3 linked regions of the Homo sapiens genome follow. The protein of the gene in region 1 purifies or fractionates together with the protein of each later gene. This does not show direct contact. Each region holds a gene or a part of one and is shown in the gene's direction. Other genes may lie near its edges.

Evidence for each region.
Region 2: the proteins of GDAP2 (region 1) and ZDHHC2 fractionate together in Homo sapiens (co-fractionation; one large-scale study listed by BioGRID). This does not show direct contact.
Region 3: the proteins of GDAP2 (region 1) and BLTP3A purify together in Homo sapiens (affinity purification with mass spectrometry, with the first as the bait; one large-scale study listed by BioGRID). This does not show direct contact.

What each region holds. Positions count from the first base shown.
Region 1 is NC_000001.11:117,919,431-117,923,165, reverse strand, and holds part of GDAP2 (ganglioside-induced differentiation-associated protein 2), read left to right. Parts: intron 1-2,741; 5' UTR 2,742-2,808; coding exon 2,809-2,984; intron 2,985-3,735.
Region 2 is NC_000008.11:17,201,258-17,204,992, forward strand, and holds part of ZDHHC2 (palmitoyltransferase ZDHHC2), read left to right. Parts: intron 1-3,735. UniProt on the Homo sapiens protein: Palmitoyltransferase that catalyzes the addition of palmitate onto various protein substrates and is involved in a variety of cellular processes.
Region 3 is NC_000006.12:34,865,083-34,868,582, forward strand, and holds part of BLTP3A (bridge-like lipid transfer protein family member 3A), read left to right. Parts: intron 1-2,142; coding exon 2,143-2,297; intron 2,298-2,383; coding exon 2,384-2,534; intron 2,535-3,500. UniProt on the Homo sapiens protein: Tube-forming lipid transport protein which probably mediates the transfer of lipids between membranes at organelle contact sites. May be involved in the retrograde traffic of vesicle clusters in the endocytic pathway to the Golgi complex.

The sequences.
Region 1 (3,735 bases):
CACCTTCAAAAAAGAACAGGATAACAGCGATGCAGGGAACAAGGGAGATAACCTTAAAGTGTGGCTGCCTGTGGGCAGGGCAGGACAGAGCCATATTTCTCTTATTACCAAAAACGGATAAGAGAAGTATCACTGAATTCTTTCCCCAGTAAGGAATATTAATAATTAACAGCCCTGGGAAAAGAATGCATTCCCAGGGGAGGCCTCTGAAATGTCCACCGTGGGAGTGTCTGCCTTATGCAGGTGTAGATAGGGATGAAACATGCCCTAGTCTCCTGCAACGCCCCCAGGCTTGCTAGGATTAGGAAATTCCAGCCTGGCGAATTCTAGTCAGACCGGTTCTCTGCTCTTGAACCCTGACAATGCGTGCACAGCGGGACATGGAAGTTCATTAGTGATTCTAGTTTCACCCTGACCTTCTGCCTTGTGATCTTTTGTTGCCCTTGAAGCATGTGATCTCTGTGACCCACACCCTATTCGTACAATCCCTCCCCTTTTGAAAATTGCTAATAAAAACTTGCTGGTTTTGTGGCTTGGGGGGCATCATGGAACCTGCCAACATGTGATGTCTCCCCTGGACACCCAGCTTTAAAATTTCTCTCTTTTGTACTCTTTCCCTTTATTTCTCAGACCGGCCAACACTTAGGGAAATAGAAAAGAACCTACATGAAATAATATTGAATTATCGGGGGCATGTTCCCTTGATATTAGTCCTGTTATTCAACCTTTCAGTATCATTTAACTGATACTTCTCAAGTATTGCTTGAAATGTTTTCTTCACTTGGCTTTTAGGCCACCATGCTTTCCTGGTTTACCTTCCTTTCTTAGCATTCCTTCTCTCTCTCACTTTCTGACTTGTCCTCTTTCCAGCCTCTAAGTTTTGTTGTAGGACTCAGTCCTTGGATCTGTTTTCTCTATTTGCATTTACTCTCTAGGCTATCTTGTCCAGTTTCCATAGCTTTAAATACCATCCATATGCTGAGAATTCCAAATTTATATCTTTAGCCGCATCTTCTGTGAGCTCTAGCCTCATATAACCAATTTGCATGTTTGACATAAACACTTGGTCATAGAATGAGCATCTCAAATGTAGCACACCCAAAAAGACATAAGAAAAAAAAACCATTGGTTATCACTCTACCCTACAACCTACTCCAGTTTTTCCCTTCTCGGTAAATAGCATAACATTTACTCAATTGTGTAAGCAAGTAATCCAGAAGTTATCTTTGGTTCTGCTCTTTCTCCCTACTGTCTATATTCTTAAGTCTTGTTGACACCACCTTCAAAATACATTCCAAATCTAACATTTCTCATCACTACCATCTCACCTAAATTATTGCAGTCATTTTCTATTGATCTCTGCATCTACTCTTGCCCCATCTCAGTTTCATTGTAGCTACAGTATTCTTTTCAAATATTATTTATATTTAATCATTACCATGATCAAGATCCTCTAATAGCATCCCTCATATTTAGAATAAGATCTAAACTTCTTACCATAGTTTACAAACAGTATCCTCTGGTTTTTCCCTCTCTTACCAACCTCATCACCTACCACTCATTACCTAGCTTATTCTGCTTTTCCTAAACTGGCCTCCTTGCTCCTCCTGTAATATACCAAGATCCTTCCTGCCTATTTGGCCTTTGCACTTGCCATTTCCTTTGCCTGAAACATCTCCCAGAGCTTCATGTGGTTGCTCTCTCATTGTATCTTTCTACTGAGATGTTACCTGTTCTCTCATAATGCTTACTTCTCTAGTCATTCTGTTAGATACCCGCTTGTTTCTTTATCATTTGTCATCTTCTGTCTTCTCCATGGAAACATATGCTCCTGAAGGGCAGGGACTTGCTCTTATTCACCAGTGTGTGCCCAGTGCCTAGAATAGTATTTAACACATAATAGATGCTTGCAAATATTTTTTTTTTAGACGGAGTTTTGCTCTTGTTGCCCAGGCTGGAGTGCAGTGACACAATACAAAGATTTATTCGATGAATGAATATACCATTTTACTGAAATAGATGTTTGACTCATAGGCAAATTGATTCTCCTTTTCTCTAGCAACAAAGAATTTCCCATTGCTTCTCTCTAGTACTTGACGCTGTGTGTCTTCCAACACCCTCCTCTTCTAATGTTTGTATTTCAGTACCACCAGCCACCTACCATATCACTGTCTCACACACCATATCCTGTAAATTGTCAACTCCTGTTCATCCTTCCTTTGTATTTTGCCTCTTAAATGTTTGCCTCCTTCTGTATCTCCTTTCCTAGTTGAAACCTTTATCATCTCTTACTACTTGATTGCAGTAACCTCCCAGCTTTTCATTTTGTCTTACTCAGTACATCCTCCACATTATCATCAGACTTTAAATTATACATATGGTTTATCTTTGTATCTCTTGCAGCATCTATTACTTTTTTTTTTTTTTTCAATAGTAGGCACTCAGTGAATGTTGAATGAATAGTCCTGTTTCTGGAAAGTAGAATTGGTGGGCCTGTGATTATTTTAATGGCTGTAATTCTTTGAAAAGAATTTATGCTTAAATAATCACTCTTTAATCCTGTTTTAGAAATTCTGTAGCAATTCTTTGTTGTCCATTGTTTTTAATGGACTTTTTAAGTGGCTATAATCACACAATATACTATTGGGATATTTCACAGTGGAATTTTGTTTACTGCTTTAATAGAATTCAAGTAATATCTGTGCTTCTCTATTAAAGTGATTCTTTCTTTTCTCTTAAAGCTAAAGTCTCCAGTGAATATTGAATTGCTGAGGATTTTGGGAAAAGACAAATCAAAGTTCCCATTCCATGGATCCCTTAGGTGCACCTTCCCAGTTTGTGGATGTGGATACACTACCAAGCTGGGGTGACTCATGCCAAGATGAATTAAATTCCTCTGATACTACAGCTGAAATATTTCAGGAAGACACTGTTCGATCACCTTTTCTTTATAATAAGGACGTCAATGGAAAAGTGGTTCTTTGGTAATTTTTTGATTACATCATATCATGAGGAGATAACACTTTCTCATAATTTATTCTAACCTCTTTTTTAAAGCCCTAGCATTGTTGAAATACAGCTTTGCGTATACGTATATGACTTTATTGAGGTATAATTGACATTTAATAAGCTACATATTTAAAGTATACAATATAAGTTTTGACTTCTGTTAATACATCCTTGAAGCCATTACCACAGTCAAGATAGTGAATATACCTGTCACCTCCAAAAGTTTTTTTTTCTGTTCCTTTGTAATTCCTCCTTCCTGCCCTTCCCTCCCTCCCCATCCCCAAGCAACCACTGATCTTCTTGTCACTATAGGTTAGTTGGCATTTTCTAGGGTTTTATTTAAATTGAATTGTGTGCTTTTTGGTCTGTTTTCAGCAGAATGATGGATTTAAGTTCATCTGTGTTGTGTGTATCAGTAGTAGTTCATTGCTTTAAAAAACTGCTTTACTGAAATACTATTCATATACAATATAATTCATCAATTCAAATTGCACAATCTAGTGATTTTTAATATATTCATAGAGTTGCATAACCCTCACCACAGTCCATTTTAGAACATTTTCATCAGCCCAAAGCCCCATTAGCAGTCACTCCCCATTTTTCCTTAATCCCTCTGGGCAACCACTGATCTACTTTCTTGTCTCTACAGATTTGCCAATTCTGAACATTTCATATAAATGGAATGAATACAATAAAATTTGTGTTTCTTAGTGACTTAGCATAATG
Region 2 (3,735 bases), on another chromosome or scaffold:
CCTTGTTATTTATTTATTTATTTTTAGTACAAGTGACTACACTATTGATTGAATCTGTTTCTTTTTGTTTTCTTCACTTAATGTATCCTGGAAATGTTTCCGTATGAATATATAAAAAATCTTTTTCTACAGGCTTTGTGTGAATGTATTCATCTAATGGCAGTCACTTATAGGACTTTTAGGATGTTTTCAGACCCAGGGGCAGCCTTTTCTCTCTCTCTCTCTTTTTTTTTTTTTTTTTTTTTTTTTTTTTTAGATGGAGTCTAGCTCTGTAACCTGGGCTAGAGTGTGGTGGTGCGATCTTGGCTCACTGCAAGCTCCGCCTCCTGGGTTCATGCCATTCTCCTGCCTCAGCCTCCCAAGTAGCTGGGACTATAGGCGCCCACCACTACGCCTCACGGTTTTTGGTTTTTTTTTTTTTTGTATTTTTGGGTTTCACGGTGTTAGCCAGGATGGTCTCGATCTCCTGACCTTGTGATCCACCCGCCTCAGCCTCCCAAAGTGGTAGGATTACAGGCATGAGCCAACGCGCCCGGCCAGGGCAGCTTTTTTATACAGGTATTTTAAACAGGTATTTTGAACCTTCATATCTGTCAACTTTGAATATTTGAAACATTGGATCAACAATACCTCTCTATTTGTCAGTGATTTCTCAATCTCTGCTCTGGCCACTTAAGATTACCCACCAGAATTCTGGGGATCAATCTCATACTTGTGTTTTAACTAAAACAGATTCCGTAGTATTTGCTTTATGGGATTTTCTATCAAAGTATTTTTTTCCTTTAGTATAAGATTTTAGTTAATTACTTCATATTAATAATACTTTCACATGCTTGCCAAAGGTTAAGTAACACAAATAAAAACAAATTATTTGAGCTTCAGTTTATTGAGTGCCGGTTATGTTCTAGAGGCCATACACATAATCTGTAATACTTTTAACAGCGACAGAAGTAGAAATTGTTTGTCTCATTTTATTTTATCTTATTTTTTTGAGACGGAGTTGCCTAGGCTGGAGTGCAGTGGCACGATCTTGGCTCACTACAACCTCCACCTCCTGGGTATTTGTCTCATTTTACAGGGGAAAAAAATGAGTCTCAGAAAAGAGAAAGAGAGGGCTCAAAGTCACATAGGAAATTTTTTTTTACTTCAAAGGCCACACTCCTTCCAATGTATTATGTTCTTTTTCAAATTTAAAGTCAGAAAGCAATTGCCCAGAAACAGGGCCAACAGCTGTGTTTTACACTGAACTTAAACAACATAAGAAGAATATTTTCCTAGAACGTGTTTTGTTTCTCCATATGAAATCATTCCTTTTCTAGATGGAGAAATAGATTCAGAATAAGTCTTCTTCCTTTTATATTGAGTCTATAAAGCAATAGGCAGTTAAAATGTCTAGCCAAAAGCTGTCTATTGTGAAGACAGTAAGGTATTATTCAAAATAAATGTCACTATATTTCTTCTAGTTATATATATATATACACACACACACACACACACATATACATGCACATACATACACACACACATACTCTATGTATATACATATTAAACTCTAAAATATATGGTCTTCATTTACTGACCTCCTTTGTCCCTAGCTCTAGCATGGCAAATTTTACCATCCCCTCAAGCAAAGCTAAATTAGTTGTTACAAAATCTGTGATCAAAATCATTTTATAAAAATACTCTTTATTATTTAATTCAAGAGCTGCTGCTTATATTCCTTCAGGAAGAGAAACAATCTTTTCTATCCCTTCCAATTTCTTCCTAGTCCACAAGTCATTATTTACACCCATGTTGTCCAAAGTCTTTTTTTTTTTTTTTTGAGATGGAATTTCACTGTCACCCAGGCTGGAGTGCAGTGGTGAAATCTTGGCTCACTGCAGCCTCTGCCTCCCGGGTTCAAGCAGTTCTTCTACCACAGCCTCCCGAGTAGCTGGGATTACAGACGTGCACCACCATGCCAAGATAATTTTTGTATTTTTATTTTACTTTATTAATTAACTTTTGAGATGGAGTTTTGCTCTTGTCGCCCAGGCTGGAGTGCAGTGGTGCAATCTCAGCCTCCTGGGTTCAAGTGCTTCTCCTGCCTCTGCCTCCCGAGTAGCTGGAACTACAGCCATGTGCCACCATGCCCGGCTAATTTTTTGTATTTTTAGTAGAGACGGGTTTTCACCAAGACCATGCCAGGCTGGTCTTGAACTGCTGACCTCAGGCGATCTGCCTGCCTCGGCCCCCTAAAGTGCTGGGATTACAGGCGTCAGCCACCACGCCCACCCATATTGTCCAAAGTTTTAAAGCACCCAGCTTTTGCCTACCCATTCTTTCCCCTTGAAACCAACATAAGTAAGCAAAGGGAATACCCTGTATCCTTTTGAGACAGAATACAGTTAGATTAGGCTGTTTCCAGTATTATTTCCTGCCATGATTCCATTCAAACACCATAAAAGGCAACCTCAGCAACAGGCTTGCATCCCCCCACTGGAACCTCTAGAGATGCAGATGTAACTGTTTCCATACAATGTGCACGCACAATTTGTGGCTTCTTTTTTTTCTTTTTTTTTTTTTTTTTGAGAGGAAGTCTCCCTTTGTTGCCAGGCTGGAGTGCAGTGGCGCAATCTCAGCTCACTGCACCCTCCACCTCCCGGATTCAAGCGATTGTCCTGCCTCGGCCTCCCGAGTATCTGGGACTACAGGCGTGTACTACCACGCCCAGCTAATTTTTGTATTTTTAGTAGAGACAGGGTTTCACCATGTTGGCCAGGATGGCCTTGATCTCTTGACCTTGTGGTCTGCCTGCCTCGGCCACCCAAAGTGCTGGGATTACAGGTGTGAGCCACCACGCCCAGCCAACTTGTGGCTTCTTTATAAATTATTTGCCCATATGTAAGACCTTTAAGTTTACAAATTACTAAATCTAATGCTATTCCCTTTACCTTATATTTTTTGAGGGAGATGATGTAAACATTTTTTTCACATGAACATGGTTTCATTTTTACAAATCTAGAAAGAAAAGTGTTTCATCTTAGTAGCTAAGTCAATGGAGAGTGAGATGATTTTTACCTACGTTAGAAGGGGAACAAGAACGTTTGAGAAAAGGAAACAATATGTGTATGTTCTGTGCAATAGGCTGAATACTAGAAAAGGAAACCTGTATGTTCTATTTAATAGGTTCGTTATACCGGTTAACCAAGAAGTTACTCAACCCATGAAGGTATTAGCCAATTCCACATGGGTGATGTATCACATTGACACAAGGTCATCCAGTAGTGCCCTTGTCTTTATGAAAAGGAAATCAAAAACTTTGATAGAAAGAGAGTGAGCCTATAAGCCTATGAGTGGGAGCTAAATGATGAGAACACATGGACACAGAGGAGGGAACAACACACACTGGGGCCTTTTGGAGGGAGGAGGGTGGGAGGAGGAAGAAGGCTAAGCAAAACAACTAATGGATACTAGGCTTAATACCTGGGTGATGAAATAATCTATACAACAGACCCCCACAACTCACGTTTACCTGTCTAACAAACCTGCACTTGTATCCCAAAAATTAAAGTAAAATAAAATATAAATAAATAATTTTTTAAAAAAGAAAAATCTTAACAAAAAGAAAGTGAGCCTATAAAAATGAATTGTATTTGTACTTAGGTTTATTGATACAATAGTTTGATTTGTCCCCCCTCAGATAACGACTTTGGAGTGAGAACTGAGATTTATAAATTTCCATATTTGGAATTA
Region 3 (3,500 bases), on another chromosome or scaffold:
GGGATTTTTGAGCCAAACTAATTAACATCTCCGTCACCTCAAATACTTACCATTTATTTCTCCTGTTTAACTGAAACATTACACGTTCACTAACATTTCCTCCTAACCCCTCCCATTTCCCTTTTCAGCCTCTGTTAAGCACCATCCTGCTCTCTGCTTTTATGAGTACAGTTGTTTTACATTCCATGTGTAAGTGAGCACATGCTATTTTTGTCTTTCAGTGCCTGGCTTATCTCATTTAGCATATTGTCTGTCCTCCAGATTCATCTACGTTATCACAAATGACAGGATTTCCCTCTCATAAGGCTGAATAGTATTCCATTGTGTGTTTGTACCACATTTTCTTTATCTGTTCATTGGTTGATGAACACATAAGTTGATCCCATAACTTGGCTGTTGTGAATAATGTTGTAGTAAACACAGGAATGGAGATAGTTCTTTGATATACTTTTTTTCATATTCCTTGGATATATACCCAGAAGTGGATATGGTAACTCTATTTTTAGCTTTGAGGACCCTTCATACTGTTTTCCATAATGCCCATATTAATTTACATTTCCACCAACAGGGTGCTAGGGTTTCCTTTTCTCTACATCCTTGCCAACACTTGTTATCTTTAATCTTTTTGAGAATAGGCATTCTGACAGGAGTGAGTTAATATTTCACTGTGGTTTTAATTTAAGAGAATGCACCGTTTCTTAAGCTGGGTGGCATGTACCATGTTTGTTTTGTTATTATTTTTAACTTCTTATGGAAGATTTCATGTCTATGTACAAAAGTAGACAGAATCAAATAATGAACCCTCATACACCCATTACCTAGCTTTGAAATTAAGAACTCATGGCAGGCCCGGGGCAGTGGCTCACGCCTGTAATCCCAGCCTTTTGGGAGGCCAAGGTGGGCGGATCACTTAAGGTGAAACCTAATTCTCAAATTTAAATTAAAGTTCTGAAAAATCTCCTGGGGTTCTTATATATTCACCTTAGACAGCAATTAAACTTGTGACTGGATTTCTGCCTTGGGAAGCATCCAGTCTAAAAGGAAAGAGAAGGCCGGCACAGTACCTCACGCGTGTAATCCCAGCACTTTGGGAGGCCCAGACAGGCAGATCAGGAGTTTGAGACCAGCCTGGCCAACATGGTGAAACTCTGTCTCTACTAAAAATACAAAAATTAGCCAGGGATGGTGGCGTGCGCCTGTAATCCCAGCTACTCAGAAGGCTGAGGTGGGAGATTGCTTGAACCCAGGAGGTGGAGGTTGTAGTGAGCCGAGATCACGCCATTGCACTCCCCTGGGCGACAGAGCGAGACTATTCCATCTCAAAAAAAAGAAAAAAAAAAAAGAACTCGTGGCCATTTTTGTTTCATAAACACTACTGCCCACTTTCCTTCATCTCATAATATTTTGAAGCAAATCCCAAACATATCCTTTTGTCCATAAATATTTTCAGTTATGCATTGCTAGAAAATACAGACTTAAATTTTTTTAAATTGTGGTAAAATACATATGAAATTTGCCATCCTAACCGTTTTTAAGTGGATAGTTCAGTGACATTAAGTACATTCTGATTGTTGTACAATCATTACTACTGTCTATCTGCAGGATGTTTTTCTTCTTGCGAAACAGAAACTCTGTACTCATTAAACAGTAACTCCTCATTTCCCCTCCCCTCAGTCCCTGACAACCATGATTCTACTTTATTTTTATAAATTTGCCTACTTTAGGTACCTCATATAAGTGGAATCATGCAGTATTTGTCCTTTTATCACTGGCTTATTCCACTTGGTATATCCTCAAGATTCTTCTATTTTGTAGCGTGTGTCAGAATTTCCTTCCTTTTTAAGGCTGAATAGTGTTCCATTGTATTTATATACCACATTGCTTATCCTTGCATCCATGGAAGGACACTTGGGTTGCTTCTGTTTACAGACTTTTAAAAATGGGATCAAATGTCATTACACTTTAAAAAATTAAGAGTAATTCCTTAAATTCATCAAATATCTAGTTAGTCCTCAAATTTCTAGTTGTCTCATGAATGTCATAAGTATTTTGTTTTATTTTTACAGTTGTCATTGTTTGTAGAGGTTGGATTTGAACAGAATATTTTGACTTTTAAATTCATTTGTCCTCTTTTTCATGCAGAGTCTGGTCCAGAATCTGTTCCACCAGGATCTCTTTCAAATGTCTCAGATAATGCTGGTGTTCAAGGGAGCCCTCTTGTGAATAATTATGGCCAGGGGTCACCAGCAGCCAACAGTTCAGTTTCACCCAGTGGAGAAGACCTCATCTTTCACCCGGTCAGCAGCTCTACTTTCTTCTCTGCAGAGGGTAGGCTCTGGGCTGAGAGCTTGGGACTTAAAACTAAGAGAATCTCCTTTGATAGGTCTCAGTTCTGGTCCTGAAGGTGAATGAGGTGTCTTTTGGGATTGAGGTACGTGGTGAGGACCTGACTGTGGCCCTGCAAGCAGAGGAACTGACCCTCCAGCAGCTGGGCACCGTGGGACTCTGGCAGTTCCTGCATGGACAGTGCCCAGGTAAGGATGGTAGTCATTCCACGACAGATCATGGGACTTGTCTAGGACAGCCATAGATTAACTTGTACTTGTCACTGTGCTCTAAGGGCAGCCACTCTACTAGTGCCAAGTTCTCTCCAGCAGCCATTAGGGGGAGGAAAAACTCCATTGAAGCCTTTTTTGCAAAGAGCCTCTCAGAGCTCTTTCTGGGGCTTTGCATTCACTGTGCTAGTCTCCAACTTCACTTCCAGGTACTCCTGGAGCTTATAGATGAGGACAGTGTCCACTTCATTTGTGTGTCTCTTAACATAAAACTATCTGATCAGGGAACTTCTGTCATTCAGATTCAGTCCTTTGATGTGAATTTTCATTTATAAAAGATGACAAGAAAAATCTTGGCTTATGTTACATACTTCATTTAAAAATTATTGGCTGGGCGCGGGGCTCATGCCTGTAATCCCAGCACTTTGGGAGGCTGAGGTGGGTGGATCACCTGAGGTCAGGAGTTCGAGACCAGCCTGGCCAACATGGTAAAACGCTGTCTCTACTAAAATATAAAAATTAGCTGGGCGTGGTGGCGGGTGCCTGTAATCCCAGCTACTTGGGAGGCTGAGGCAGGAGAATTGCTTGAACCCAGGAGGTGGAGGTTGCAGTGAGCTGAGATCGTGCCATTGCACTGCAGCCTGGGTGACAAGAGTGAAACTCTGTCTCAAAAAATATATATATATAAATATATTTTTAGGCTGAGCATGGTGGCTCATGCCTGTAATCCCAGCACGCTGGGAAGCTGAGGTGGGAAACCAGCCTGAACAACATAGCAAGACCTCAGCTGTACAAAAAATACAGGCTGGGTGTGGTGGCTCATGCCTGTAATCCTAGCACTTTGGGAGGCCCAGGATGGTGGATCACTTGAGGTCAGGAATTTGAAACCACCCTGGCCAACATGGTGAAACCCCGTCTCTACTAAAATACAAAAAAATTAGCTAG